Regions from separate parts of the Homo sapiens genome. Here regions 1, 2 and 4 are each linked to region 3. The links come from fine-mapping of genetic effects on plasma protein levels. A gene starts in region 3. Each other region holds a variant in brackets. All regions are shown on one strand. Distances are from middle to middle.

Region 1 (8,108 bases), 45 kb before region 3:
TTCCCCAACACACCTTCCACCTCCAAATTTCCTTGATTTTTTTCTTGACACCAGCCTTTTCCTCTGTAAGGAAGGGAATAAGACCCAGCTATATCTATAACTCTTCTGGGTTTGGGGTAGATACAGGATGATTGGAGGGAAGTCTGCCCGTGCAAGAGGCAATAGAGTATATAAAGACTCGGACTTGGGAGAAATTCAGATCTAAGTTTGTATCCTTACCCCTACCATTTAAAAGCTAAGTAACCTAAGACAAGTTTTTAAATAAAACCTCTGTATTTTCTTTTTTAAAATAGTGATATACTGGGCACAGTGGCTCATGCCTGTAATCCCAACTCTCCAAGGCCAAGATGGGAGGATCGCTTGAGCCTGGGAGTTTGAGACCAACCTAGGCAACATAGCAAGACCCCATCTCTACAAAAAATTTAAAAGATTAGCTGGGTGTAGTGATGTGTACCTGTAGTCCCAGCTACTGGGGAGGCTGAGACAAGAGGGTTGCTTGAGCCCAGGGTTCAAGTGTACAGTGAGCTGTGATTGTGCCACTGTATTCCATCCTGGGCAACAGAGGGAGACCCTGTCTAAAAACATAAAATGGTAATAATTGTAATACTTACTCTTAAAACTCCAAAATGATCCTTTGACTCCATGTCTCACATCCGGATCACATGGAGGCAAAAGGTGGGTTCCCATGGTCTTGGGCAGCTCTGTACCTGTGACTTTGCAGGGGTATAGCCTTCTTCCTGGTTGCTTTCACTGGCTGGCATTGAGTGCCTGAAGCTTTTCCGGGCACTTGGTGCAAGCTGTTGGTGGATCTGCCATTATGGGGTCGGAGGACAGTGGCCCTCTTCTCACAGCTCCACTAGGTGATGCCCCAGTAGGGACTCTGGGAGAGCTCTGATCCCACATTTCACTTCTGCACTGCTGTAGCAGAGGTTCTCTGTGAGAGCCCTGCCCCTGCAGCAGACTTCTTCCTGGACATCTAGGCATTTCTATACATCCTCCGAAATCTAGGCAGAGGTTCCCAAACCCCAATTCTTGACTTCTGTGCACTTGTACAGCACAGGGACTCTGGCCCGGCCCATGAAACTATTTTTTCCTCCTAGGCCTCTGGGCCTGTGATGGGAGGAGCTGCTGTGAAGACCTCTGACTACCCTGCTGTATTTCAGACTTGCATGGGGCCTGCAGCCCCTTTGTTTTGGCCAATTTCTCCCATTTGGAAAGGCTGTATTTACCCATTGCCTGTACCCCCATTGTATCTGGGAAGTAACTAACTTGCTTTTGATTTTATAGGCTCCTAGCCAGAAGGGACTTGCCTTGTCTTGGATGAGACTTTGGACTGGACTTTTGAGTTAATGCTGAAATGAGTTAAGACTTCAGGGGACTGTTGGGAAGGCATGGTTGGTTTTGAAATGTGAGGACATGAGGTTTGGGAGGAGCCAGGGGTGGAATGATATGGTTTGGCTGTGTCCCCACCCCAATCTCATCTTCCCATGTGTTGTGGGAGGGACCCAGTAGGAAATAATTGAATCAGGGGGGCAGATCTTTCCTGTGCTGTTCTCATGATAGTGAATAAGTCTCATGAGATCTGATGGGTTTAAAAAGGAGAGTTCCCCTGCGGAAGTTCTTTGCCTGCTGCCATCCATGTAAGACATGACTTGCTCCTCCTTGCCTTCTGCCATGATTGTGAGGCCTCCCCAGCCACTTGGAGCTGTAAGTCCATTAAGCCTTTCTCCTGTATGAATTACCCAGTCTCGGGTATGTCTTTATTAGCAGTGTGTAAATGGACTAATACACTTACCTAATGGGGTTGTGGTCTGTATATACTTAGCATGGTATCTGTCATTTTGACCCTCAATAAAGGTTGTTATTATTTTCATCATCAGGATTATCATAATCTCATCCTATTCAGATCCTTTTCAGGTCCTTCGGCAACCCTAAAGAACTAGAAATTCCTAAGCACTCCTATTTGATGGTTTGGAGGAAGCGTTTTCATCTTTTAGCAGATCTTACTTTTTAGACCTTCCTCTATATCTTAAGTGGGACTTCTGACTCAAAAGCTTTGAATTTACTTTTAATGTCAATATATTACCCACTCTACTGGCTTACCGAGTGGTTCTGGTTAGTAGGCTGTTTTTTAAGAAAAACAGATCCAAACTCCTTGCTCATCAGTTCACTGCTTTGGGCCATTCATTCCTAGGGATATTGACTACTGTTCCACGTTGACAAATTAGAGAATCCTTGGCTAGTGTAGTGTGATGTATTATTTTGGGATGCCCACGCATTAAGGGGCTGGGAGAAGGAATCCTGGTGTCTGATAAAATGAAATAGAATCTGGGTCATGGCATCATTGTTGTATCCAGCAGGCTTCTGGGAAGGCAACTTTCAGAAACTTCTTAGGACATTGGCAGAAACTCTGAGGTGAGACCCCTGGGTGAATTGGTATGGTTTGTTTCCCTAGAATCTCTGCTAAGAGGGGGAGCAGTGTTTGTCACTGAAAAACATGAGTGTGGTGTAACCTAAGGAGAGGCTTATCAGAAGTGCTCTGAGTCTAGAAGAGCCTTCTGCTTGGGATCTGAAAGCAAAGCACTGGTGTACAAGTAAAATATCATGCTACAGTTTGACTGTCTGCTATCCCCTGCCCCATTGTTCCACTTCTTTGATCAGCTCTATTTTCTTTGAGGGTATTCCTGGCAACTTCACAGTCAGATTCAATGAATTAATTTTATTTTTTAATTCAGCATTGATTAATTGCCCCTGTCAAATGAACGGTGACATGGGCCACTTAGGTTTGGTTCACTATTTGGGGTGCCTATCCTGTACTCAAACCCAGCTTATAGCTGTGGAAGACAAAGACCTCCACAGCTATAGGGTATGCTTTCAAAAATTTTGCAGTGGAGTTACAAGTCTGTTAACCCATTAAAATATAAAAGTACTAAGAATCTCTCACATTATGTAGTATTTGGCAGTGTGCAAAATATTGCACATAATTCTCTAGGTTATCACAGTGACCCCTATAAACCTTGTTAATTATTATATAGATTTTCTAGATGAGGGCTCTAAAACCAAAAGAGGAGAAAGTATTCAACCAAGGTCATAGCAAATTAATAGTGATTGGCAGACTAAAACATAAACCTATTTCTTCTGCCTCCACGTGAAAGTTCATTATACTATACCACAGCTGCTTCCATGGATATCTTGCAGTGCACTTTTAAAAAAAATAAATACCCCAGGAGTTAAGTCATATCCGGTTAGCATATGGTATATAATTGTGGTACAAGTAGTAAATTCTATGATAGTCCAGAGAGGAATGATCATCATGGGCTGTAAAGACCAGGGAATGCTTTGTAGAGTAGGTAAGACTTGAGTTGAACCTTACATGAATGAAGGAACTGTCAAGAAGGTATTTAGTGCCTGTTCTTTTGAGTGACAGAGCTTTCTTGTGCAGAGGGCTTTGTGCACGTTCTAGGCCCCGTGGTGGTCTTAGTCTGTCTGTTATCATCCTAAAGAAGCATTTCATTCTCTTCTCTGTTCTGTGCTCTAGGGATATTTGTGGTCCAGATCAGCATCCTAGTTCTTGTACCAATATCTTCATGCAATATTTTTTTCCACCAAAGTATTCCTAAGGAGAAGAGTGTACGTATGTAACCCAATAGTTGCTGCCCTTCACTTGAAATATTTTGAAATCTTGTTTTGATTCTAATATGTTATATATGATTTACATTTTCTCCATAATATTTGTAATTATTTAATGTAAAAGCCCTTAAAAAAGGAGGGGAAAAAACTCTGAGTAAAAGTTATGCTTCGAGAAAATTAGCTATATTTACCCCTCCCCATTTAAAAAATTGAGGTACTATTCACAAAATATAAGATTCATCATTTTAACCATTTTAAGGTGTACAATCCGGTGCCATTAAGTGCATTCACAGTGTTGTACAATCCTCACCACTATCTAATCCAGAAATTTCTCATCGCCCCAAAAGGAAACCCTGTGCCCATTCTTCATTTCCCTTTCCCTCAACCCTGGTAACCACTAATCTACTTTCTGTTTTATGGATTAACTTATTCTAATATTTAATAAAAATGAAATCACACAATGTACTAGTTTTGGTGTTCGATTTCTTTGACTTAGTGTAATCTTTTCAAGTTTAATTCATGTTGTAGTGTCAGTACTTCATTCCTCTTTATGGCTGAATAATATTTCATTATATTGATATACCATGTTTTGTTTATCCATTCATCAGTTGATGGACATTTTGGGCTATTTTCACCTTTTCCCTATTGTAAATAGTGTTGCTATGAACATTCATGTACAAGTTTTCATTTGAACACCTGTTTTCAGTTCCCAGAATGGAATTGTTGGATCATGGTAACTCTATGTTTAACTTCCTGAGAAACTACCAGACTGTTCTCTATAATGCTGCACCGTTTTATATTCCCACCAAGAGTGTATGAAAGTTTCCATTTTTCCACAAGCTTGCCACCACTTGTTGGCAATAGACAATAGTCCATCTTTTTTTTTTTTTATTGTAGCTATACTAGTGGTGTGAAGTGATATCTCATTGTGGTTTTGATTTGCATTCCCTTAATGACGAATGATGTTGAGCATCTTTTTATGTGCTTCTTGGCTAGTTGGATGTGTTCTTTGGAGAACTATCTATTCAAGTCCTTTGCCCAATTTTTAATTCTGTCATCTTTTATTGTTGAGTTGTAAGGGCTGTTTATATATTCTGGGTAAATAAACTGTTATGAGATATATGATTTGCAAATATTTTCTCCCATTA[T/C]GTAAATTATTTTCATTTTCTTGGTAGTGTCCCTTGATGCCCAGAGTTTTTACTCTTGATGAAAGCCAATTTGTTTTTTCTTTGGTTACTTGTGCTTTTGGTGTATATCTTAAAAATCTTGCTTACTCTAAGATCATGAAGATTTATCTCTATGTTTTCTTCTAACAGTTTTATAGTTTTATCCTTTGGACTTTGACCCATTTGAGTTAATTTTTGTGTAGTGTTATAATGTTAATGGTAGAATCTAGGTGGGGGGTTCTCTGTAAAATCCCTTCAACTCTCAACTTCACCATATGTTTGAAATTTTTCATAAAAAAATATTGAAGGGAGAAGGAAACCAAATTTAGAAACTTATTATTTAGAAATGTACTATTTCTTCTTTGAGCATCCCCTCTTCCCCACCTTCTCCACAGCTTCAGAAGAGAACCGTAATGTAGGTTAAAGGCAGTTGCTGGACAAGGAGAACGTAGCAGTGCACTCACCAGGCTCCAAGCTAACATGAGAGCTTTCTATTAACCACAACTCCTCTGTTAGCCTGTAACTTTCTGTTCTGTCACCCCGAATCTTTCCTCCACAATATGCCCCCAAGAAACTTGCCTTTCCATCCCCAATGTTATCCCCAGTTGCTGTTTCTGTTAGATAAATGCCTTATTACCCTGAAATGACTTCACCTTTGTCATTTCAAAGAATGATCTAATTTTCATCTGAACAAAGGCATTTTTGCAGAAAGAAAACTCCATTGAGAATCAGCAAACATGTGTTCTAGAGTAGACTCAGTCAGGTAAGTGACTTGTGCAAGGTCAAATAATTGATAAATGGTAGAAACAGAGTTTGGGTCCAGAACACCTTATTCCGGTTTATCATTAGTACTGCTCTTTAGGACCTAAAGGAATGCATGGTGGAGTTTCAGAAAGCAAGGATATATTTCATCACTCAGATTCTGCTGCATGGACAACTACCTACTTTAGAATCTAGCTCTGTAAGTAAAATCAACTTTTGAGGGAAGAATGTCCACAGCCAGTTTTCAGTGGCTGCATAAGAACAGTTTCAACCCTCGTATCTTGTACTTTACCTACAAAAAAGTGCCAAGAAAGTTGGCTGTGAAAAGCGTGAATTTTTGTGCCATATATCAGATGAAACCTTCTAGGATTCAGGTTTCTCCTTTAAACTTTTATTCATTCCGTATTTTTAATAAGCTATCATAGGGTTCTTCTGAAACCAGTTCCTTAGAAAAGGTGTGCAAGGGACCCAGAATTCCAATTTACATAGGAACTTAAATCCCAAGGGGTTCTGGCTGATGGTCTTTGATTTTTGCCTCCCTAAATTTACATTAGGGTAAAAGATTATGTTTTGGGAGTGCTGTCTTGCTCCCCAGAATATAACTATATTTTCCCCCAGCACTCAGTACACTATGTAGCATATAGTAGGCATTCTGTGAACTTCTGATGAATTGTTGGCTTCCTCACAGCAGGGTCTGGAATTGTTCATCTCTGTACACCCATCTCCTAGTACAGCACCTCCTAGCATATAATAGGTTTTCAAAAATTAATTGCATTGATATTGTTACTTCACTTTTAGGTAAGTGCCTATCCTTTTAACTAGGCGTTTCTCAGTCAAGACTGTCAGAGCCCTGAATGAGTCATTGAGTCAGGATTAGAGGGTTAATGATAGCCCAGAAAAGATAGGCACCACTTGTTAGCTGATTCATGGGGCTAATGTCAGCTCTTTTAGGGGACGTGGCCTAGATAAATCAAAGTCTGGCAATAATGAACCCATAGCCCGCAGACAGCAAAAATTATGGACCTTTCTGAACTCCTGCAAAGGAAATGAAAAACTCTTTAATCAGATTTCTGGACTTGAAACTAGGGATTTTTGTAAGGATGCTGTATTTCAGATTGCCAACATGGAATTGGGGAGCATGATCAGAGAAAGGTTGGAAGAAGAGGGGAAGATAATAGGGACTTAGCTGGAAGAAGGAAAAGGAAAAGGTTGCCCGGAAAGCAGAGAGAAAGATGACCTGAAACAAGAGTAACCATGGTCTCACCTTGGTTTTGTGATCGGTCAATGATCTGGTGGCAAACGAACTTTTTGCTAGAGAGCTATATCCTCAGAGTGGCCAGAATATCCACTGTCTTAGGTTTGACTTCAGTAGTTATCATTCTCACAACCCTTTTCTAGTCATATGAGATGGGATCCAAAGTAAGCTTTATGTGTTTTGTGGAGAACGAGGGGAAGAGGCATTAAACAGTCTCCTCCTCTACAGTAAAGATTCTCAGAGGCATTTATCATATTTTGGAGAGGGTTCCCCTTTGTTGATTACAAATGTGGCTGTGAGCTCTAAAATCTAGGGCATACTTTATTTATTTATTTTTGTTTTTTTGAGACAGGGTCTCCATTCTCTTGCCCAAGCTAGAATATAGTGGCAGGATCATAGCTCCCTGTAGCCTCACCTTCCTGGGCTGAAGTGATCCCCCTGCCTCAGCCTCACGAGTAGGTGGGACTACAGGCATGCACACCATGCCCAGCTAATTTTTTATTTTTTTTGTAGAGACAGGGTCTCACTATGTTACCCAGGCTGGTCTCGAACTCCTCAGCTTAAGCAATCTTCCTGCCTTAGCCTTTCAAAATATGGAGATTATAGGCATTCACCACCACACCCAGCCCGTCTAAGGCATTCTTGATTGGAGTCTAACCTCAGGAGGAAACAAACGTCATTGTAGTGTCAATATTACCCAATAATTTTCTGTCCTTTGGAAGTTACATAAAATCAGTGCAGTTGGTTACAACCCCATGTCCTTTTCCCCACCTTCATGGATTTATAAAAAGATGTACCATCACTGTGATCTCTCCTTGTTCACATGAGCTTAAATATGGGATCACTGGATCCAGTTGTTATTCTTAGAGAAAACAACAAGGCACTTTCTTCCAGTGATCTCTACTGAATCATTCAGCATTTACGTTTTGAGTGACAACTTTCTTAGGTACTTGGGATTCAATGTTGAGATAGACAGATTTAGTCCCTAATTGTACCTTACCAATGTACAATCCTTAGAAGAAATATCCTATCTTATTTAAATCTGTTCTCTAAATCAAGTGCTGGAAATTACTTCAGATATATTGCTCTGAATTTTGTGCCTGTGTAAGAGCTCATCATTCATTGTTTAGAGAGGAACCAGGAGACAGAGAACTAACTCTATCCCAACTCACCCTCCCAAATAACATCAGGAACTGGAACCAACAGCATTCTGGATGGTATGAGTGGGAAGTGCCAGAATCTGTTACATAACCTGTGAAAAATTCTGCCTTGGGGTTGCAGTTAGAGTTGTCAAG
Region 2 (8,108 bases), 64 kb before region 3:
TGATAGAGAAAAGTGAATCCCATGGTTTTGCAGGAGAGGACAGCATAGCACTAAATGGTTTGCTTTGAGTGATAGATGTATTTAAAATGTTATAAGACAAACTCATGTAAATTTGGCATTCTATTCCATAATATTGTGTTCCATAATGTAGTTAGTTTTAATATCAGCATGTTTTAAATTGTTTTTAGGGAAATGGAAATTCAAAACTTCCTTCTTCTATCTCTTCCCCTCATAATCTTGGTAGATGGAGGGCTTAAGTCTAGAAGAATGATCAACACTAAACTGTTTATAATAGTTTGCTTTCAGAGGTGGGATTGTAGAGAAATTTAAGTTTATGTTTTTATATTCCTTGGGCTCATTACAACTATATACTAAGAACAATCATTGTGTAAAATTGGTACTACAAAAAGAATCTCTATGGGTATTCTGTGAGGATATGTATTTTTTTTCTCATTACTCTTATTTAAGGAGCATGGAGCTATAAGAAGATAACCTTGCTCTAATATTTTCTCAGAAATATTTTGATAGTTTATAAGCTAAATGATAGCTTGTAATGTTAGCATTTGCCAAACTGTTTGCTGTGATCTATATGGGAAAATTTAATTAATCAGCTATGGAGAGATGGAGAAGTAGACTGATTATTATAGCCTTTTTAAAAGGTAACAGATCCTCACAGCTCAAGTAATTCTTATAAGTGAGACCCAGAGACAGAAAGTGACTTATTTGAGATCACATCCAATATTAGCAGAAGAGCTAGGATTTGAAGCCAGGTATTTTGCCTTGTCTCAGAGCTGTTAGCATTTACTTAATTTGGGGTATTTTTAAAATTTAAGTTGGATTATGGGTATTATTTATGCTAGTAATTTGCTTCTGTCAAAATAGTTAAGCCTCAAGACTTAGTGGGAACACTAACAGTGGTCTACCCCCTGTATTTTGTTCCACACTCAACATCTCTGCAGGCTGTCTATTGGAATAGAGGGTTTGACCACCAAATAAATGTAAGCAGCCTATGTACAACTGTTTTCTATAAAGACTTACTTGGATATTGAGAGGCAGGTGTGTTTATTGCAAAATGAATGTTAAATCTTCTAATAACTTCTGGATTTGAGTTCAGAACTACTTTGGCCAACTGACAAAATAATTGCACAAAATGTAGATAAACTATCAATGGAGGAAGATGTCACTAAAACAGGTAATTCAGGCAGATCACTACAGATCAATCCATTCTTCTTTTTGCAAAGAAAATTCATTTTTTTAAAAAAGTGTGTTTTTCACCCAAATATGCTTTCTTTAACTCTTCTTGCACATTTAAGGCCGATTATCAGAGGATACTTGGAATCTGAACTTTTTTTAGACTGTATGTGAGGAAATAATGGAAAATATTTTAATTCCTTCACTATTAAATGGAGCACCAAACGTTCAAACTTTCCTCGCTATACTTTTAAGCATAATTTCTAAAGATAATTAGGATTTAGATTTAAGTATAGAAAAATCTATATGTTGCTCTTTCTTTAAGAGGTGGTTAAGACACAATCATTGCTTTCCACGAGCTCATTCTAGTAGGGAATACAAATGAGAGCAATTAACCTCTCATCTGTGAGAGAAAGGCTTGTATAGAGAGGTATGGGGAGCATAGAGGAAGAAGTAAGTTAGTTTACCTGGAGGGGTCATATCTGAATGGCTTTGAAGAGAGTAAAATTTCTCCAGACAAAGGAACTATTATTCCAAGCAGATCTTTCTGAGCTTCTGTGAATTCAAAACACTTATTAGCTATACCACTTATTTGGCATCCCTGGACCACTCATATTATTTCATTTCTCATGCCTTATGTCTTCAGCCAGATTCTAGGCTTCCTGGGGGTCAAAGACTGTGTTTCATATGTCATTGCATTGTTTCAGCACTGACTCTAGTGTTTCAAAATGTTTTGTATAGTTGGTACACAATTAATGTTTGTTGATTGACCACCTTAACATTTGAGAGGTGGAAGAAGGGCCTGTTGAGCCAGAGTTTGAGGTGACTTTGGAATAATTTTTTAGGTTTCTTGATCAGTATTAAAGACCCATTGGATCTCTGAGAATAGCTTTATCTATAACATTTTCCCTTTTTCCCCATTTTCATTACTACCCTCACTGGGGGTTCTCTGTGACTTCTCCCAGGGCCTGTTAGCCATCCTGATTACTTTTCCTCTCCCACAGGGTGCCTTTGACCTTAAAGTTATTATTTTTCCTCTTTGGGCATCTGTTTTCTCATCAGTAAAATAACATGAAAGTAATCTTTAAGTTTCTTTCTAGCTCCAATATTCTGTGATGCCATTGTCCAGAATCTCTACTGAATGGGGGAGCAAATTATGTATCACATTTTTTGTTATAAAAATCAAATTGGTTTATTGAACAGATTCTGGAGAATAAAACCTTCATTCAAGCCTCAGCCTTAGTGGTCATATTAGTATTGTGGTCTCTGTGGGTTTTTAATCAAAGAAAACTGTGGACATAGGAATGGTATCATTTGTCAGTGTAAGCTGCAATGAAGAAATGCAAGGTAGAAAAAGATGACTGACATCATTAGACCCACTTTGACAAGTGTGATATTATTCTCAAAGTACTCCCGGGCATGTGAGTTATTTTTGTCTCCTGTGGGTCAGAGTCTGGGGCTTGTTCTCCTCCCCTGGTAAGATAGCTAGTTTAATGATGGCTCTGCCATCACTGAAGTACATTTGGTCTTAATAATGGGCTTAAATTTTTCTTGGTTCTGTTGGGAACTTCAGCTGTAACAAGGAAACTTAGTAGTAACGATACTTTGATGTGGGAAAAACTAAGCACCTTTTGCTGAAATCAGTTGCTCTCATCACTGACTTTGAGCATGTTATTTTCCTTTCCACATTAGCGTCTTTTTTCTAGGTGTCCTGCTGTTCTTTGCTGATATCCTTACTCTATATCCTAACTGTTCTAATGGTTACTTTTCAAAAGTACATCTCTATCCCCTGACTGCCTTTTCTCCTTTCTCTAAAAGTCTTATAAGAAGGCTCTGCCCTGCAATTTTTTTTTTTTTTTGAGATGGAGTCTTGCTCTGTTGCCCAGGCTAGAGTGCAGTGGCATAATCTTGGTTCACTGCAACCTGTGCCTCTTGGGTTCAAGAGATTCTTCTGCCTCAGCCTCCTAAGTAGCTGGGACTACAGGCACATGCCACCACGCCCAGAATTTTGTGTATTTTTAGTAGAGATGGGATTTCACATGTTGGCCAGGCTGGTCTTGAACTCCTGACCTCAGGTGATCCGCCCACCTCAATCTCCCAAAGTGCTAGGATTACAGGCATGAGCCACCGTGCCTGGCCCCTGCAATTTAATATTTAGTTCTCTACTGTCTAATATTATTAATCTGTTTTGTGTGTGTTCATTTTGTCTCCTTAAATAGATTATTTGCTTCTTGAAGGCAAGGAGTAATCTTTGTTGATTTCGTAATCCTAGTATCATTGGGTTGGCCCCAGAAACAGGATGGAGGAAGGAGTGAAAGAGTGTAAAAGACAACATTTATTGAATTCATACCCTTTACTAGGCACTGTGATATGTACCTTATATTTTATAAAAAAAATTTATAACAGCCTAAAGATAGGAAATATCAGTTCCATCTCAGTCCTGAGGAGACTTGGCCTCAGAAAGGCTAGGTGGGGTGCCAGAGGCAGTGTGGATTCAGGCATATTTGGTATTAAGTCACCTCCATCTATGCCATTTACTTTTTGTGTAACCACAGTAAGTAACTTAGCCATTCTGAGTCTCAGTTTCAAGATGAGGGGGTGAGTGTAATACCTACTCTGTTGGGTTCTTGTGAACCTTAGTAAGAAAGATAAGGTATTTAAGGGGCCTTTGAGTGCCTAGCACATAGAATATCTCTAAACAATACATATTTGACAATAGAATGGACAGGATTTGCTACTGGATTGGTTATGATGCACAAGGAGAGAAGAGTAAAGCATGACTCCCAGGTGTCATCTTGAACACTTGAGAAGAGTATATAATTCACAGAGAATATGGAATGCTAGAAGAAAAACAGGTATGGAAGGGAAATATTGAGTTTAATTATATGTTGAATAGGCAACTGAATTTATAAGTCTGGAGCTCAGAGGAGAGATCTGAAACAAAGATACAGTGTAAATCTTGGAGTTGTTGGCCTACGTGTGGTGACTGATGTTCTTAGATAGAAGAGAGAGAAAAGGCAAAGTAAGATGGCCTAAGTTCTGAAGAACTTCAACACCAGCAGACAGGTTGAAGAACCAGGAAACTAGTTTGACGAAAGCCAAAGGAAGAAAACATTTCAAGACAGAATCATCTACACATGATGTCACTTTGTTCTCACCTTCCACTTACTCTTCAGCTCACTACAGTCTGGCTTCCGTACCATTCCCCTCAATTACACTAAAATAGCTCTTTTTTAAAGGACCGTCAGGCTGGGAGCAGTGACTAAAGCCCGTAATCCTAGCACATTGGGAGGCCGAGGCAGGTGGATCACAAGGTCAGGAGATCATCGAGACCATCCTGGCTAACACAGTGAAACCTCGTCTCTACTAAAAAATACAAAAAATTAGCTGGGCATGGTGGCGGGCACCTGTAGTCCTAGCTACTCGGGAGACTG[A/AGG]GGCAGGAGAATGGTGTGAACCCGGGAGTCAGAGCTTTCAGTGAGCCGAGATGGCGCCACTGCACTCCAGCCTGGGCGACAAAGCGAGACTCCGTCTCAAAAAAAAAAAAAAAAAAAAAAAAAAGGACCATCATCCCCCAGTTGGACAGATTTGGTGGGTATTTCTCTATCTTCATTGAACTTGTTCTGTCGCCATCATTCAACAAAGTTGACCATTCCTTCTTCTTTCCCCCTACTTGGTGGCTGCTCTTTTTTAGTATCTTTTCATCATCATTCCCCCAGTACCAGATCTCTAAGTGTTGGGATTTCTCAGGGCTCAAAACAGAGCCCTTAGTTGTTCTCTTTCTGTAAATTATTTTCTTGGGTGATTGCAGCCATCACCATAGATTTCATACCATCTTGGTCTTAATGACTTCCCAATTTTTACCTCCAGTAAGACCTATCCTTGAACTTCAAATATCTGCATGACATCCCCACTTGCAGTTCTTATGTACGCATCCAAAACTGAACTCTTGAATTTTTCCTCCTTCAAACTCATCTCCTTCCCAGCACTTCCTTTCCATCTCAATAAATAGTACAACCATCAACCCAATCAAGCTAGAACCTTGGGGTCACTTTTGATACCTTCCCCTGCCATTCATGACATCTAACTTGACACTATGTCAAATCTGTTATACCTTTAGAATTTATCTCATGTCATCCATTTCTCCTAGGCCAGGTCACCATCAGTGTGACCTACAGTCTTGAAATTACTTCCTATCTTAAAGCTTTCAGCCTTGCTTTCCTATAAATCTTTCTCTATACAGCAGGGAAAGAGATCTCCTAAAAATGTAAACTTGATAGGGCATGTATGAGTGGAAGATAAAATTAAGCATTTTCACATTAAAAGACAGATTCTTGTTGGCTCCTTCAGAGTATTACAGCAGGTCAGGGGGTGGCTTAGAAGAGAACCCAGGTGTTCTGAGAACCAGTCCAGAGCTCCAGAAGGACATCCTCACTAATAGGATTCCAAGTGACATTTTCACAAAGTTAAATGAGAATAAAGCACATGGCTTTTCTGTTATTCTGTTAGTTATAAGACTTTTGCTACTAGATTATATTATAAAATTCATTTGTGATCATCAGCTTCTGCTTGTTTGTGATTTTAATTCACTACGTAAAATACATTCATATAACTAAAGGAAACTATATCTAAAAAACTAAAGGAAATATGAGAATGATGTCTCCCCAAATAAGGAGAGAGAGTGAATGAGAATGAGTGTGTGTGTGTAACTCTCTCCATATATAGTAGAAGTTTTGCAGTTTAAAAGTTAGTAACAAATGAAAAATTTACTAGAGAGGTTAAATAGATTTAAGCAGGAAAAAAAATGAACTTGAAAATAGATCAGTTGAGATTATACAATCTGGGGAACAGAAAGAAAAAAATGTACAGAGCCTCAAGGACCTGTAGAGCACCATCAAGTATACCAACATAAACAATGAGAGTCCCAGAAGGAGAAAGGAAAATAGGAGCAGAGAGAATATTTGAAGAAACAATGACAGGAACCTCCCCACACTGATGAAATACAAGAATTTATTCATCCAGAGGTGGAGAAATAGGAACACTTTTACACTGTTGGTGGGACTGTAAACTAGTTCAACCATTGTGGAAGACAGTGTGGCGATTCCTCAAGGATCTAGAACTAGAAGTACCATTTGACTCAGCCATCCCATTACTGGGTATATACCCAAAGGATTATAAATCATGCTGCTATAAAGACACATGCACACGTATGTTTATTGCGGCACTATTCACAATAGCAAAGACTTGGAACCTTGGAACCAGCCCAAATGTCCATCAATGATAGACTGGATTAAGAAAATGTGGCACATAATGGCCGGGTGCGGTGGCTAATGCTTGTAATCCCAGCACTTTGGGAGGCCAAGATGGGTGGATAACGAGGTCAGGAGATCAAGACCATCCTGGCTAACACGGTGAAACCCCTTCTCTACTAAAAATACAAAAAATTGGCCGGGTGTGGTGGCGCACGCCTGTAGTCCTAGCTACTCGGGAGGCTGAGGCAGGAGAATGGTGTGAACCCACAAGGCGGAGCTTGCAGTGAGCCAAGATCACACCACTGCACTCCAGCCTGGGCGACAGAGCGAGACTCCATCTCAACAAAAAAAAAAAAAAGAAAGAAAAAAGAAAATGTGTCACATATACACCATGGAATACTATGCAGCCATAAAAAAGGATGAGTTCATGTCCTTTGTAGGGACATGGATGAAGCTGGAAACCATCATTCTCAGCAAACTCTCGCAAGGACAGAAAACCAAACCCCACATGTTCTCACTCATAGGTGGGAATTGAACAATGAGAACACTTGGACACAGAGTGGGGAACATCACACACCAGGGCCTGTTGTGGGGTGGAGGAAGTGGGGAGGGATAGCATTAGGAGATATACCTAATGTAAATGACCCATGTAATGGGTGCAGCATACCAGCATGGCACATGTATACATATGTAACAAACCGGCATGTTGTGCACATGTACCCTAGAACTTAGAAAGTATAATTAAAAAAAAAGAATTTATTCATCTGAGAAGATCAATGAACTCTAAGTAGGATACATTTTTGAAAGTTTGAACACACCATAATCAAACTGTTGAAAGCCAAACCCAAAGTCAGTCTTGAAAGTAGCAAAAGAGAAGTGAGTCATCATGTAGAAGAGATCTTAAAAAGATTAACAGCTTATTCTCATCAGAAACCATGGAGACCAGAGGCAGTGGGATGACACATTCAAAATGCTAAGAGAAAAAGACTATCAGCAAAGAATTCTGTTTCTAACAACATTTTTCTTCAAAAGTGAAGGAGAAATTAAAACATTCCTAGATGTACAAAAAAATGAGAGATTGTTGCTAGCAGTAGTTATAAATTTGTGTCAGTGGGCATACAATATATAAAAATACTTATATGATAATAGCACAAAGGATGTAGGGTGAGGAGGGAATGGAACTATATAGGAAGAAAATTTTTGTAAACTATTGTAATTGGTATCAATCCAAACAAGTTTGTTACAAATTAATATGTTAATTGTAATTCCCTAGACAACCACTAAGAAAGTAACTTTTTAAAAAAAGTAAATAAATGACAAAGGTATTTAAATGGTATAGTAGAAAATGCAAATTTAGCACAAAAGAGATTAATGGAGGAATAGGGGAATAAAAAATTAAGATATAGGGAAAACAAGCAACAAAATGTCAGATGTAATTCCTACCTTAATAATTACATTAAATGAAATTAGATTAAACACTTAAAAAACAGAATGACAGAATGTATTTTAAAAGAACATGATTCAACTATATGCTGTCTACAAGAGTTACACATTAAAGTCATTAAAGTCACAAATAGGTTAAAAGCAAAAGCATATATATATATATATATATATATAATGCAAATAGTAACCAAAAGAGAGTTGGAATGACTGTGCCAATATTAGACA
Region 3 (8,108 bases):
CCCCAGGGGCCCAGGTCCTTGAAAAGCCCAGAATTGCAGCCTCCCCAATGACTTTGGTGGCAGTGGTGGCATGGGGCTCAGTGAAGGGACCAATAAATAAAACTACTATAATCTTTCTAGCAAAAAGATAAGCAGATTATGTTTGTACGAGGCAGAGTTGTGGGATCTGGTGAAGGCCTTTTCGTTTAGCATGGTACAGAGAGAAGAATGTGGTCTTTAAAGTCAAAGTCTGTGTGGGATCCCCCTTTCTTTTCTGTCATTTACTAGCTGAATGATCTTAAGGAAGTTGTATAACCTCTCAGCTGGAAGATGAAAATTATAAAGTTGTCAGATTAAATGAGAGATTGTCTATAAAGTTCCCAGCACAGTTGTGGTCCCACAGAAGATATTCAATAAATAATAGGTCCCTTCCCCTTTCCAGCCCTTCCCAGTATCTGCACAGGCCAGGCTCCTGCTCTAGATTGGTGAGTCTTTTACCTTCCCCATAGGAAATTTCCCCCTTTTTACCTATGAAGCTCCTTTTCACCTTTCAGACGAGATCGGGCGCGTTCAGGGTGGTATGGCCGTAGATTCCTTTTCACCTTTCAAAGACCCTTTCAGTGCCACCTCAAAGCCATCTCTGACCACCTAGCTAGCCCATGCCTCTTTTAGAACCTCAGTCGCTCAATCATTTACTCACTGAGTGACTGCTGTGATCTAGTACCAGGAATACAGATATAAAAATGACAGGATCTCTGCTCCCAAGGAGCTTAGAAATGAGTAGGGTAGATGGATAAGTAGGGAAAAATTACACTATTGTGTGGTTCTATACAAAGTGCAGTATAAGAACAAAGGAACATACAATTATTTCCATCTATGGAAGGAGTGTGGGGCAAAGAAGGTGTCTCAGAGAAGACTGTGCTTGCATTGGGCCTTGAAGGGATGAGTGGGAGTCTGCCTACCAAACAGGTTGGGGGAAGGGCTTCCTGTCATTGCCACTATCCTGTGCAGAGGCAGGGAGACACAGCCTGGCAGCATACCTTCTGCAACCACAGGTAGCTGAGTTCAGTTCTTGGGAAAGTGAGGGGCTGGGAACTGATATTGACAAAGCTAGAGAGGGCAGCAGTGTTCTGGTCACAAAGAGCTTTCAACACCAGGCAAAGGAGCTTGTGCCTTCTCCTGTAGGACCTGGGCACCATTGATAACTTTTCTTAGACTATTTTTTGTCATTTCTCCCCACCCTCAGTTAGACTTGACCTCCCTGAAGGCAGGGAACATGTTTCCTCATTTCCCCTGCTGTACCTCCATGCCTAGCAGCGGGCTAGACACACAGAGGGCAGGTGCTTAGGAAGGAGGTGCGATAATAGAGTTTGAAAGGGCCTGGTCTGCTAGACCTGGGAACTGCAGGGCTCAGTGGTGTGTCCTGCCTCTGCCTCTTCCATCCAGGAGCTCCTCAGTTCTGTACAATTCCACATCCTCAGAGCTAGGAAGCCCTTATCATTGTAGCCTCCAGTGCCTATGACTCATCAAGAGCCATGTCTGGACAGTGAACTCTTTTAAGGACTGTGCCTTGTTACTGAATCTCCACTCTCCTGGCCAAGGCATGGCAGTGACTAAGTGGTCATTCATTGCTGAATGTGTGGATAGATCGTGGAATCCCTTCACCTGTTCCCTCCCCCACTGCTGTGCTTTTTCTTTCCCTTGCTTTCTTTCTAAATATTGTTTTATGTTTTCAGGCCAGTTTAGATCCCACCTACACAATGAAGCTTCCCTGATAGTTCACAACTACCAAATAGTTCCGTTCTCTGAACTCCAAAATAATTTAATGTTGCATTCATTTATGGAGTCATATTTTTGTGTGATTCTTTAACTGTTCTATCCCAGCCAATTCAGTATGGAGGAATCCTGCCTGGGCCCAAGTTCACAGAGACAGAACTATGTTAGACTCAAGCTCCTGTTAAGTCCTGTGCAAAAGGCAGAGTTGACCTGCAAGGAGCAGTTTTAGAGAGGAGACTTCGACTCAAGTTGCCAAAAATCTTATACTAATTTAAACTATTTGAAAAACGGAAGCAGCTGCCCTACACTGGGTGAGCAGCCTGTCCTTAAAATAGTGAAACGGTGGCCAGGGTCACTGTACTAAGAACTCTTACATTTAAAGGGAGGTTACAAGGCTCCTCCTAACCCAGAGGTTGTCTGTCACTAACACAGCTCTGTTTTATGCCCAAGAAAATGCCACCTGGCTCAGCCTACTGCCCAAGGAAGACCCTGGCTCCTTTCTCACTACCTCCCCTAGGGCAGAATCTATTATATTAAGGCCAGTTGTTGGTCTTTTAACTTACCAGTCAAGAGATACTGCTTCTGGCTGTTGGCTTCTAGTTTCACACCACAGAGGGAAGAGTCAAAAGGCGTATAGATATACTGAACATCCTTGACTTTCTCAAACCCTTTGAACATCTGACAGGCAATTACAAAAAAAGGCAATATTGGGTCAGTGAGTGTACTGTATATATTAACAGACAAAAACCTCTCACTTCTCAGCCTAAAAATGTAAGCAAAAGTCTAGTTGAGGATTTTGTGTCCTCAGATGTCCCTACTGGGTTATTTTCTCTCTTAAAACAAAACAACAACAACAAAAAACACCTAAACCTTGGTTTATTCCAGTAGGTACCTGTAGTGGCACCATACACCAGCAGCTGTGGGACCAGATGGATGCTGAGGCCCTCCCTGGCAATATCCCTGGGATTCTATGGGCTCTGCCTCCAAATCTCATCCAGTTCCACTTCAGTATCTAGACCCAAGGATTACTGAGCCAGGCCACCTGAAAGCTACCAGCCCTCCCAGAACACAGACTCCACTTTCTCCATCAGCCTTAGGGGCTACACATCCCAGCCTGCCCCCATGTACCTTTATCTGTTTGATTTCATACCGGAGCATTTTTTCAGTGTCAGCAGGGTCTGCACTGGCCGGAACTACCTTCTCACTGGAGATTTTGGCCCGAATCACTGCATAGGAAGAGAAAAGAGGGAACCTTCAGCAGCTGGTGGGGGCAATACACCTGAGGTCTGGATGATCCAGGGTCCATGAAGAAGTCTATAGGGCAGTTCTTGGTTTTGGTGTGGCTGGGTTGTGAGCAACGTGATGTGTGAGAAGGGGGACCTGGAAACACCTCCCCTGCAGTCACTGGAAGTTCCAAACCCCTCAGGCTTATTAGGTCCTATAACCGCTAAGCTGTTTCTGCCTTTTGAACCAGTTAGTCTGGAGAGCTCTAGTTCTCCATAGCCGTTTGTGCAGTGGGGCACAGGGTAGGAGTCAGAGTAGAGAAGGGAGGAGGAGCCCCTTCAGGGCAGTCGGTGTGAAGTTTATCTATTGCTGTGGTCAAGGCCTCTCATCCCGCCTACAGTTGATATTAGTAAATGTTTATTGAATTCATAAATGTTCTGACCCTGCACTGAGGTATTGCATCTCTTGCCATTTGAGCATTAATAACCAAAAACTGTTGATGATGTTCTTCCTCTGTGCCTGGCCTTGCACTAGGCACTAGGCCCATAGATGTGATTAAGACAGGGTCCCCATCCTGCCGAGCTCTTGATCTAGTGGAGTGCACACGTGTAAAGAACAACAGCACAGCATAGTAGGAGCGCTAAGACGGTTAGAGATGCTGAGGCGGCACCAAGGAGCCCGGGAGCCTGCAGAGAAGGGGAGAGACCTAAGTTAGCCCTTGAAGGATGAGTAGGAGTCTGCCAGGAATTTAAGGGTGTGAGGGAGGGCATTCCAGGCAGAGGGAAGAGAAAGGACAGAACGTGTGTGTTGCCATAGGGGCTTGGTGGCAACCTCAGTTATAGGCCTGGACAGACACGGGTAGTTACAATGCAAGCCCTCTCCCCTCCCCTTTCTGTCCCCAGTCTAGTAGTTCAGAATAATCATCAGATAGCTCCGGTGACACCTTGTGTAATGACACTCCATAATTGCAGTATGGCCGGAGTGAGGGAGGTCGCTATGGAAGTCCCTGATGAAATCTTCATTTCCTTATGAATCAGTCAGGTTCTGGGCTTGCAAGGTTGCTATGGCGCCTGGTCCTTCTCCACCCATCAGCCTCAGCAAGAGACAACCGGTAAGAATTTGAGCTCCTCCCTTTTCCTCTGGACTCCTGGTGTACTGCTGGCCAGATACTAATCCCCCACAACCACCCCCTGCTGTGGACCTCGCGGACCTCGGACTCACCAAGTGCCGAGTGGCAGATGTGCTGCTGAGGGTGCGCCGGGGCGCAGCTGCATGCCTCACCCAGCCCCGGGGGCCGCAGCAACGCCAGCAGCCGCAGCAACAGCACCCAGCTTGGCGCGGGCCGAGGGCTCCCAGGCATGACACTGCAGATCCGCGACTGAGCCTGTGAGGTCTGGGGGACTGGACGGCCCCAGCAGGGCTCCTTCCCAAGGCCGTTGTGCCCCTCGCCCCAGGCTTTATGAGGTGGCCCTAAGGGCCAATCCCGCCCCGACGGGCTCCGCCTTCCTTTGGCTCTAGGCCACCCGCGGAGGCAGGACCCGAGGCTCTTCCGACCTGCATACTCAGTAAGATGCAGAGGGAAGCCTGGAAGGAGGCCCTGACCTCTGTTTCCCTGCCTAAGTCATGAAGCGATCTGGAAGCAGAGGGGAAGCACTGGGAGAGGGGATGGTGTCAAGGGCAGAAAGACGGAAAGAGCCACAAAGACAAATGCATGAGGACAGAAAAACTGAGGGCTGTGATTCAGGCAGAAAGAACAAGAGTGAGGAGAGGCACAGACAGAAAGAGTGAGACAGGCAGAGTCCCAGAGAGGCAGACAGAATTACAACAGGCAAAAGAGACAGTGACAGAGAAGGACGGACCCCTTGCTGAGCTGCACGCTGGGAATGAGACGAGCTACTCAGGGCTTCTTTCAGCTGCAGGAAGTGCTTTCAATGCCCTATTTATGAGGCTCCAAAGCAACAGCAAACAGTAATAGAACAGGACAGAGAAAGTTGGGGTGTGTGTGTCTTGGCTCTGTTGCCTGGGGGGTGGGGAGAGATGTCAAAGAAGCAGCCAGTGCTTTAGAAACCCTTTCTCACTCCCAGAGCCTCAGACTCTCCAGATAGCTGGAGACAGCGCTCTTGGTGTACAAAACACAAAGTGTCCCATCACTTAGGGCAAACCTTGGACCTCAAAGCCCTCTCGAGGCCCTAGACTACATTGATTTTTATTGCATGTCCCTTCTCACTGGAGACTCTGTCATGTTCTAGAAGGTGGGACAGCTTAGAAAACAAAGAAGCAGGCTGGGCGTGGTGGCTCACGCCTGTAATCTCAGCACTTTGGGAAGCCAAGGCGGGTTGATCACCTGAGGTCAGGAGTTCGAGATCACCCTAGCCATCATGATGAAACTCCGTCCCTACTAAAAATACAAAAGTTAGCCGGGCGTGGTGGCCTACACCTGTAGTCCCAGGTACTCAGGAGGCTGAGGCAAGAGAATGGCTTGAACCCAGGAGGCGGAGGTTGAAGTGAGCTGAGACTGTGCCACTGCACTCCAGTCTGGGCGACAGAGTGAGACTCCGTCTCAAAAAAAAAAAAAAAAAAAAAAAAGTAAAAGAAAAAACAAAGAAGCAGGGGACTTGGGGGTGACTGTGACCAGAGCCTTGTCTGCTGTTTGGGCACAGTGTTGCAAGCCTCCAAATCCCAAATCTCCATGGGATTATTGCTGTGGGATGTTTCCACATGGTGCTGGACTGGATAGTGGGAGGCTGGGTTCCAATTCTGACTGTCACTGTAGCTTTGTGACTTTTGCCTCTCTGGGCCTCAGTTTTTTCTTCATAAAGTAGAGTTGAACTACGTGATTTCTAAAGCCCTTTGAAGTTCTTCTTCCCATCCTTGGCTGGCCTCAACCAGGAATGCTGAGATCCTCAGGCCAGATACCCCCAGTATCTGTTCAAATCTTAGTTCCCATAGGAGTCTGACTTTTCATCAGGGTCAACATTATTTCCTTCAAAGGATACCTTTTCATTTTGATGGTGTTAGTGATATTTGAAAAGAAGGGAATTGAAAGAGAGCTGAGTCTGACTGAAAGATGAAATGCCCGGGTTAGCATCCAGGCTGGTTCTTCATACAATGTTCAGACCAAGATAGAGGCTGATGTACTATTTGAAGGGAGCTCAGAAAGCATCCCATCTGATCTCTTCATTGGACAGATGTGAAGGCTGAGGCCCAGTGAGATACAGTGACTTGTAGAAAGTCCGTGGCAGAAGAGGACTAGAGTACTCGTCTCCTGACATCTAGCCCAGTGCTCCTTCCACTCCACAATATTACTTCTTACATCACCATTTTGTAGCAGCTTGAAATCTTGCCCTTAGAGGATAATCCTTCTTTTAAGGTTTTGTTGCTCCTCTGTTAAAGTATGGCTACCTCAGTGTAGAGTTCGCTCCCCTAAGGATCTCTCTGCATTTATAAACATACTGAATTCTTCTACCGGCTCTCTTTCAAACCCCAAGCTGGGAAGAAATGGGCCTTCACATGCAAAGCCTTGTTTGGTGGTGAGATTGGGGTATTGGTGAGCAGTGAAGAGTGTGAAAGAGGGAGAAAACAACCAGGATCATTACAGGAAAGCTGGGCCTTTGAAGGTTGTAGGTACCAAGAGGGTACATGCTGACAGGGACATCAAGATGCCAAAGATGTGTTTTTAAAATAAAAATACAGGTTTATTAAAGTACATCTACATATAGTAAAGTTCACTCTTTCAGAGATACTTTCTTTTTTTAATTCTCTTTGTCTGAGGGCCAGTCCTGCCCAGGTTTTGTCTAATGCAGAGAAAATTGACAGTGCATTTTAAAGATGTAGGGTATACCAAATAAGAGTACAGGGTTCTTGTAGCACTGCCACTAATATGCTCTGTGACCCTGGGAACTCACTGTCATTCCATGGGTCTCAGTTTTTTAATCTGTAAAGCAAGTAGATTGGACTAGTTCTTTAAAGAACCCTCCCAAGGGTATTCCCAAGAAAAATATGTGTAGGATTCCACGGAGAGATGGGCACACTCTGACAGTTTATTCATTTCTCTTCTGATTTCAGCTGACACTGCCCACGTTCCCTGTGGTGGTGAAGATTGGCCACGCTCACTCAGGCATGGGCAAGGTGAGGCAGAGAGGCCTGCTGTGCTTCAGGGTTGAACCAAGAAGGGCAGTTTTCAGAGCGCCCATTTGTGAACTGCTATTCTCCCTCTGTCACTGATGAATTCTTTCCAAAGAGAAGATGATTTGCCACCTCTAAAGCCATGAGTGTCACCCAACCAGACCTCTTTCAGTAAGCAGAATGCAAGCCACCTGCTTGGTCCTCTGGGTCCTTTGCAGCAAGTGTGGCCCTTGAGTTCTGGGAAGGGAAGCTAGGGAGAAGGGGCCTCCTGGGGAGATGTGGCACCCAGATTAGTGTCTGGATCGGATACATATTGGTGGGTTTGGAGGCTCAGGGCCCTTGTGACTTCTCAGTGTGTGTATGTGTGTGTCTCCCTTTCCCCCTTTCTGCCCTGCTCTAACATTAGGTCAAAGTGGAAAACCACTACGACTTCCAGGACATTGCCAGCGTGGTGGCTCTCACCCAGACCTATGCCACTGCAGAGCCTTTCATTGACTCCAAGTATGACATCCGGGTCCAGAAGATTGGCAACAACTACAAGGCTTACATGTGAGTAAGAGTGGGGTATGTTTTCTCCTCAGTGATGATGGAAAAGCTGAGCCTCCACATTGCAGCCAACTCTCAGATAACAGAGAGGGTGCCACTTAAGTCAGAGATTTTTTTACCTGGGTTCCTTTTAAGTCAGAGGAGGGGTCTGTGGACTAAGATGAGAAAATATATTAATATTCATTTTCACTTGCCTCTAAGGGAAATTTAGCTTTCTCTTCATTTTGAACAGAGACGACAGACTACATTAGTTACCTGTACATAGGAGTTTGTCACTAAAGGTGATTACTGATTTTCTTAGATCTTAGATCTTATAGTTGAGACACATATCTCTATGGATTATTCTCATTCCTACTTTAAAATAATGGTACTTGTTAGGCTTGCCACTACCTCCTGTTACTTAGAAACACATATTTTACTAATCACAGATTTGTTTAATATTTTTGATAACTCTAATT
Region 4 (8,108 bases), 30 kb before region 3:
TTGCCTAATAATATGTGACATAGGAGGAGAGTAAAGAGAGAAGGGGAATGACCAGTCCTAAAGTATACTAAAACTAGGGAGGAGAGTAGAGCTACTGATTAAAGTTATGTTTAGGTAAGTAAAGTATGTCCTTTTTTTAGAAAAGAAGTTAAGGCTAACCACAAAAAGAATAGAAATAAAATGTGTAATTACTAGAAAATTAAAGAGAAATGACTTGTGCAAGGGACCCCTGTACAAGAAAGATGAACTCAGCATTACTTGCAATAAGAAATTTCAGAGTAAACTAAATGTCCATCATAACAGATAAATAAATTGTGATGTATTCAAGTAATAAAAATAAATAGGCCAGGGTTTTGTATATTACCATGAATACATGTCAGAAATATAACACCGAGTGGGAAAAATGCAGGTCGTAGGCAGATAGATATAAAATAGCATCACTTATATTAAGCCCCAAACAAGCAAAACAGTACTATATTCAGTCTACGGATATATACACATGTAGTAAAACTATATAAAAACACATACAGGAATAATGAATGTTAATTCAGAGTAGTTATCCCTGGGGAAGGGATGTAGAGGAATAGGATTGGGGAGGAATATGCAAGCGATTTCAACAGTGTATATTAATATAGAAAAATATTAAGATCAATTAGCAAATAAACAAGTATGTTATATTCTTTAAATATAGCTGTATGACAAATAATGAAATTAAGTTTGGAGAAATGTATACAGCTGCTGAGGATTTTTCTTTTTTTTTTGAGATGGAGTCTCACCCTGTCGCCCAGGCTGGAGTGCAATGGCACAATCTTGGCTCACTGCAACCTCCGCCTCCCGGGTTCAAGTGATTCTCCTGCCTCAGCCTCCCAAGTAGCTGGGATTACAGGCGTGTGCCACCATGCTTGGCTAATTTTTTGTATCTTTTTCACCATGTTGGCCAGGGTGGTCTCAAACTCCTGACCTCGTGATCCACCCACCTCAGGCTCCCAAAGTGCTGGGACTACAGGCGTGAGCCACCACGCCCAGCCAGCTGCTGAGGATTCTAAGTTTATTTTTTCCACAGTAAGGCATAATATAAAGTGACGGAACAAATTTAATACTGCTGGGTCTGATTAAAATTTATAACTTTGAAGAAATAAACAGATTTGCATTTCTCCAAGATTATGTTTTCCCTAAGTGGTAGTTTGTCAACAGAAAGCTACACTCAATAAAATCTCAGAGATATCCAACTTCCAATACTTGCTGCTTTATTCAGGTCTGATCTGACCATCTGGAAGAATTTCATTAGGTTTTAATTATCATGCACTAAGAACATAAGCAGAGCATTTTCAAAGAGGAGCCTTCATTTCATGCTGAGTCTGAAAACCTTATCATAGGAGGAATGTTTGAGAGAATAGGGGTAGTATAGCCTGAAGAAGTGGTCTCAAGGGGCCCTGTTCACTGTCCCAGACAGGATGGACATGGACAAGAAAGAAGCAGACCAGTTTTATGTGGACAGAGCCAGAATCAAACAGCAAGCTTCAAAATGGCAAATGTCAGCCCAGCTTGAAAAAATGAATTGTCTAAAAGTGAAAAAAAAAAAAAAACCCACAAAACACACAAAAAAACTGAGAAATTTCTCTGATGTCCCCTTGTTATAAATATTACAGAGGAGATTTTTGCATTGGGGTATGAGGTAGGATATGATGATGTCATTTTAAGTTTCCTACACATGAATGACAGAGACAGACTAGAGTCTTTAAGTCACTCAAGTGAAGATAGTCATATACCAAAATTGTTTACACATAAGGGGAAAGCTACTCTTGGCCTCAGGCTTTTAGCTGTATTTTAGGAAACTCTCTAAAGCACAGAATCTGGAAACTGGGGAAACAATATTTAAGTAGAAATCTCGCTTCTAGAGAGTACTGTCAAGGTTTCTGCTTCATCATTCCCCAAATTCCAAATGATGTGCTTCATAGATCGGCAGAAGTCCCTCTCCTGGCCATTGGCAAACCAAGAAGCAAGGAACTGGCTTTATCCTACTTTATCCCTGTTGCCCTGGCACTTCCTGTCTGCCATATGTATATTCTGTATTATACGATAACTGCACCACCACTGGGCAGTGATTTGTGAATTTCACTTTCATGCTGTACTACCTTTGTTAAAGTCACTTGAAATGCCCTTTCCACATCACATATTGAAATCCTACTGTTTAATTTCTACACTGTCAGACCCTGAAAATATTAGAAGCCCTGTGGGTAAATCCCCTCCCAAATGAAGAAAAAACAATTCAGATGAATTCCTAATGTACAAAAATTTTTGAATAATGCCATATTTTAGTTGTAGTATGAAGTGGTTAATCTGCTCTGGAGTCAGTTTTCCTAGTTTCAAATCCTGAATCTTCCACCCAGTAGTTGTATGACCTTGAACAAGTTACTTAATCTCTTTGTGCCTTAGTTATCTGTAAATTTGGGAGATAATGCTATCTACCTTATATAATTCATTATGAGGATTAATTCATAAGGTGTATAAAGTGGTTAGCACAGGTACTAGTGCTTAATAGATATTAGTTGATATTAATTTCATTGCAGTTATAATTTTGGTGCTTGTACTTTAGATAACAATCTACGGTACTTCTCTCGAACACTAATTTATTTTTATTCTTCTTTGTTTTAGAGCAGGGTAAAGTCTTTCCTTCCCCTTCCCCCTACCAAGTGCCTTTCATATAGGTGAACAAATAATAGGTGCCTAATCTAATGAATCTTTGTTGCATGAGTAAATTAATTAGAATTACAATATTTTGAAAGGCTTATAGAATATATTTCATTACAACAGCACTACATAATGAACGTCTTTTCAAAGGAATGTGTCCAAACACTAGGGGTAAAAATGAACTAGGTTTTCAGGCTAACCAGCTTGAGTTGGTTTTTAAAACTACTTTTTAGAGCTTTTGAATGTGAAGTGTATTTCAATGGATCATTAGAGGTGGCTGAAAGGATGGACAAATTCACTGAGAAAAGAGCAAGAACAGCACTATCTGTCTTCATATTTCTCTATTAAGGCATGAGCTTATACTCTGGGCTAACCTTGATCTAACAAAAAGGACATTGTATTGAGAAGACATCAGCTTTCCCACCGTGTGATCTTGGTCAACTTTCTGTCTTTAAGCCTCTGTTTCTTTGCCTATGAGAGGATAGCATCTAAGGTCCATTTCTCCATTCAGAGCCTGTGTGGTTCCATGTTGCTAAACTCAAGTGCATCTGGGAACCTGTGGCATGACTCTTCCAGAACAGTGCCAGTTCTCCCAGCCTGCCAAAATTCAGTTGTTAGTGTCTGTTCTGGTGAATAATATCCCCACTGAACTGGCACCAGTTGGAAAATTGTAGAATGGAATGTGCCACCTGGGTTTGGATTTGGAAATCCAAAGTATTGTTGCCTTGAGGTATGAGGATGTTTCTGCTGCGCCATGGTGGTGAGTAGGCTGATAATGCCAGCCATGTCAGTTTGCACTTGGACCAGGAAAAGAGGATCAAGTCTCCTTTGCTAACAAAAGCAGAATGTGAGGAGATCTCTTTTATTTCCTTGCAGCAATTTGCTCTACGAACTGTGTACTGATGATGTGGTATTACAAACAGAATCAATGCATCAGCAAAATGATAAAAATAAAACTCCCTTGTGCTTCTATAATACTAAGCTGTTTACATTTTTTTTTTCAGACAGCATCTCACTCTGTTGCCCAGGCTGGAGTGCAGTGGTGTGAACATGGCTCACTGCAGCCTCAACATCCCAGGCTGAAGCGATCCTCCCACCTCAGCTCCTAAGTAGCTGGGACCACAGACACTAGCCACCATGCCAGACTAATTTTTTATTTTTTTGTAGAGACAGAATCTCATTATGTTGCCCAGGCTGGTTTCGAACTCCTGGACTCAAGTAATCCTCCCGCCTCAGTCTCCACAAGTGCTGGGATTACAGGTGTGAGCTACCACGCCCAGCCAATTATTTACATTCTTTATGATACTTGATCTCACAAGCGCTCTGAGTGGAAATCGGGTCCTCAGTTTCTACATCCTGTTATATCACTTAGGGATTTCTATGTGTTGAATTCCAGTCTTCTTCAATTTGGAGGAGAGTTACCTTTCTTGCTCTAAGGAGGCAGCATGGTGGAATGGAAAGGGAACATGGCCTGCCTCAAACTGTTGTTTGATCTTGAACTTGTCAAATTTCCCTTCTTCAGGCTTCTGTTTCTTCA[C/T]AAGTAAAATAAGTAAAAGATCTCTAAGCAAAATTTTCCCTCTCAGAAGGCTGAGGGAATATTATCTTGTTAATTTTTCATATTATCATGTGAATAAAATGTATAAATACTTCAGTAATTGTTGACTTATACCTAAAATAGAACATTAAGGTGGAAGATGGTCCCATCATACGTTGGAAAAAACATGTATTTGTCTATATTTATAAATGCCTGACCAGCATTAAAAGAATGAATTCATTTTGTTGAAATGCTCTCCATTTCAAAGAACTCACGCAGGAAAGTTTTTTTTAACCCAGTGGTTTTTACATAAAAAGAGGAGGAAAAAAACCCCTGAAATGTGTGGCTGTGGTGCACTTGATACTTTACATTCTCATTTACTCATTCAACAAACATTAGAGCACTAACATGTACCAGGCATTGTAACAGAGCTGGGCATGAGATTGATACAGTGGCTACCACCACAAGGTCGCTATTCTCATGGAGCTTACATTTTGGTTGGGCAGATGGATAATAAGTAGTTGAAAAAATTTCAAAATAGAAATAACGAAGAATAATAAAATGAATCATAAAAAATTTCAAAATAGAAATAAGAATAAAATGAATAATAAAAGATTTCAAAATAGAAATAATGAATATTATGAAGATAATATAGAGAATGATGGAGGGGGCACAGAGGAAACTACTTTTGTTCAGATAGTCAGTAGAAACATAGGAGGGAATATGTGAGCTGAGACTTACACATTAAAAAAGAAGCAGGACATGCAAAAATCTGAGGGAAAGTCGTACAAAAGCCCAAGAGGACAGATAATGTTTCAGGAATACATTAAAGGCAGAGTCATTTAATTCTAACAAACTTTGGAAATGGGTACTGTCCTTACCTTATAGATGAAGAAACAAGGAAGTAAAAGAGCCCAAGTTCAGACAGCAAGTAGAGGACCTGAGATTTAAACCCAGATTAGTCTAGCTCTAAAATTCACACTCTTTCCACTGTGCCACTCAGCAGTTGATGAAAATGCAAAATTTCGTGCAAAATGAGAAGGCATAAAGAATTTTTTCTGTGTAACATGGTGGGGAGGGCACTCTTCCTTCTTTTTGATTCAGGGAGTGTGTATACCCCAGCCAGAAGATGTAAATGGCTATTTGTTTTTGTCATCTGATAAACATATGGTATTGTGTATTTTTGTGTGATATTGTTTTGTGTATTATGGTTCCTTGTTCCCTTAAGTCCCAGGTGGGCAGGTGTCTTCTGCTGGGAATCAAGAAATAGGTCTTTACTGAGAGTGTTGTTATGGGCTGAATGTTTGTGTCCCCCAAATTTATATGTTGAAGCCCTAACCTCTAATATGATGGTATTTGGAGGTGGGGCCTTTGGGAGGTGATTAGGTTGAGATGAGGTCATGAGAGCGGGGCCCTCACGATGGTGTTAGTGTCCTCATAAGAAGAGAGACCACGGCTTGCTCACTGTCCTTCACATGTGAGGACACAGAGAAGGCAGCTGCAAACCAGGAAGAGTGCCCTCACCAGGAACTGAATCTGCTGGCACCTTGATCTGGACTTTCTAGCCTCCAGATCTGTGAGAAATAAATGTTGTTTAAGCCAGCCAGTCTATGGCATTTTGATATAGCAGCCCAAGTGTGTGTGTGTGTGTGTACATATATATATGTGTGTGTGAGTATACATAGGTATATGTGTGTCTGTACATATATACACAGAGAGATGTGTATGCATCTCTGTGTGCGTGTGTGTGTGTGTGCATGTGTGTGTGTTATAAAGAATTGGCTTTCACAGTTATGAGGCTGAGAAGTCCCAAGATCTGCAGTGGGCAAATGGGAAACCCAGGAGAGCTAATGATAGTTCCAGTCCAAGTCTGAAGGTCTGAGAACTGGGAGAGCCAATGGTATAAGTTTCAATCTGAGTCCAAAGGCAGGAGAAAAGCTATGTCCTTGCTTGAAGACAGGGAGAAAGAGCAAATTCTCCTGTACTCCACATTTTTGTTCTAATCAGACCTTCAGTGGGTTAAATGATGTCCATCCTCAGTGGGGAGGGCAATCTGCTTGACTCAGTCTACTCATTCAAATGTTAATCTCATCCAGCAACACCCTCACAAACACATTTAGAAATAATGTTTAAACAAATATCTGGGCACCTGTGGCCTAATCAAGTTAACACATAAAATTAACTGTCATAGATGTGCTTTGTATAAGGCAGTGGTGAGTGTGAGGTTGAGTTGTTGGAGAATAGGAAGGATGTATAAGACAGTATGCACTATCAGGGGGCTTCTGATACAGAGGAGAAAAGAGACACAAATTAAAAATCAGCTGATGATACTAGACTGTCTGTTTAAAGTGACAAATCAACAGGTTTCATTCGGACTAGGCTTCCAGAAGGAGGAGAAACTACTGCAGGAGAGGAGGTCAGGGAAGATTTCCTAAGGAGGCAGAACTTGTTTTGGACCTTGAAGAATTATGGCAGGGGTGATTTCACAGTGGTCCAAGGCACAGGGGCTGGGAAACTGTCTGAATTATAGAAGGAGTAGGGCAGGGCTCCTGCATATGCTTATGCAGGTTGTTCACTGTACAAGGACATCTATCTGAGGAGACAAGTAGGGGCTGGGATGCAGCCCCACATTCCACTCACCAATCCAAGTGCCCTGGTGCAGGAGTGTGTCCTGCAGGCATCCTGAGGAAGAGGTGCCTTTTTCTAATTCCTATGGAGACACTGAAGCAGACTTAAAAGAAGAGATACTAGTTGCAAACAGAAGGGTGAGACCAAATCATGGAGGACATTTCCTTGTATCTAGACTGCTACCAAAGGATGGGAACCTGCAGCTCTGGTGACAGCGGTGACTGTGGGTGTGATTCGTGACCGTACAGTGGAGGTAGACCTGCAGTATTCAAGATGCTAGGAGCCTTACATATCTGGCATAAAATAAAGCCAAATCTTCAAAATTATATTTGCCTGCTCTTCAAAGCAAACTTGATAACTGACCCACTTTGCTCCAATATCAAATCAGCCTGATTTAATTTTATAAGTCAGTCATGGAAAGAAAATCTGTCCCATGACTCCAAAGCATTCTGTTCTGTAGCTCCACTATAATTACAGACAAATGCATCTAATCTTCCCGTCATGTGTTCTCCTGAGTTACAGGATTCTTTTTTTTTTTCCTGTATTTGATAATCTTGTTATCTTGTGATACTGCATCATTTAATTATTCCCCAAAATAGAGATCTTCAGAAAATCTATTCAGAAAAAGTGATTTGCTGTTCCCAACTGAAATCACAGCTGGGATGTTTACACAGAAATTAGTTATTTTCAGATCTTTGGGATTGCTGCTTTTCTTAAGAGATCTCATCTGCCACATAAGGCTGTTGAAGCCTCCCACAGATCACCTGATGAAATTTCATAAACTCCAGAGAAGGCATTCACAGAGGTCTTCAAGCCTAGGACTCTGTATTAGATTGAGCCTGGTTGCTCTCTCTGATTTTTTTCTTTTTCTTTTTCTTTTTTTTCCTTTCTTTTCTTTTTCTTTTTTTTCTTTTTTTTTCTTTTTTTTTTTGAGACAGGGTTTCACCATGTTGGCCAGGCTGCACTCGAACTCCTGGGCTCAAGTGATCCTCCAGCCTCAGCCTCCCAGGTAGTTTGGACTGCAGGCACATGCCATAGCACTCAGCTGTCCTCTGATATTAACCTTCAGATATCTAGCTGTGTTCAGTAACTCTATAAACATTTCATGTGTCAAACAGTAGGACAGGCTTTGGTAACACAAAATGAGTAGAGCAGAGTCCTCACCTAAGGAAGTATATGGTCTCTAAACTTGATCATCAAAAGAGTTGGAATTTAATTTGACTAGCTCTGCCACCTTCTAACTGCTACCTTTAAG

Alleles and levels. Positions count from the first base shown, and alleles are read on the strand shown. Strength reflects both the effect of a copy and how common the allele is.
For the plasma level of the protein whose gene starts at base 4,411 in region 3, T is the low allele of the variant in region 1 and C is the other (moderate association).
For the plasma level of the protein whose gene starts at base 4,411 in region 3, allele A in region 2 goes with a lower level than allele AGG (strong association).
For the plasma level of the protein whose gene starts at base 4,411 in region 3, C is the high allele of the variant in region 4 and T is the other (weak association).

The links. A credible set is the group of variants that fine-mapping cannot tell apart. PIP is the posterior inclusion probability: the model's chance that the variant is causal. The UK Biobank Pharma Proteomics Project read protein levels with antibody pairs (Olink). The fine-mapping took linkage between variants from a reference panel, not from the people measured, so its PIPs are less certain.
Region 1: its variant is the best candidate, but not a certain one, in a credible set for the plasma level of the TIMP4 protein (UK Biobank, PIP 0.68).
Region 2: its variant is the best candidate, but not a certain one, in a credible set for the plasma level of the TIMP4 protein (UK Biobank, PIP 0.62).
Region 4: its variant is the best candidate, but not a certain one, in a credible set for the plasma level of the TIMP4 protein (UK Biobank, PIP 0.88).

Annotation. Positions count from the first base shown.
Region 1 is chr3:12,109,610-12,117,717 of GRCh38, forward strand. All of the region lies in intron 1 of SYN2 (synapsin II), which reads left to right. Among named protein-coding and RNA genes, the nearest start is that of TIMP4, 45 kb to the right of the region's middle. The variant T/C (reference allele first, on the strand shown) is at 4,779.
Region 2 is chr3:12,090,825-12,098,932 of GRCh38, forward strand. All of the region lies in intron 1 of SYN2 (synapsin II), which reads left to right. Among named protein-coding and RNA genes, the nearest start is that of TIMP4, 64 kb to the right of the region's middle. The variant A/AGG (reference allele first, on the strand shown) is at 4,626.
Region 3 is chr3:12,154,502-12,162,609 of GRCh38, forward strand. It overlaps TIMP4 (TIMP metallopeptidase inhibitor 4), which reads right to left and starts at 4,411. Exons shown (of 5, transcript NM_003256.4): 1 at 4,201-4,411; 2 at 2,884-2,981; 3 at 2,319-2,433. The coding sequence starts at 4,339. SYN2 (synapsin II) reads left to right here. Exons shown (of 13, transcript NM_133625.6): 6 at 7,045-7,107; 7 at 7,511-7,653.
Region 4 is chr3:12,124,272-12,132,379 of GRCh38, forward strand. The region is part of intron 1 of SYN2 (synapsin II); the gene reads left to right. Among named protein-coding and RNA genes, the nearest start is that of TIMP4, 31 kb to the right of the region's middle. The variant C/T (reference allele first, on the strand shown) is at 4,229.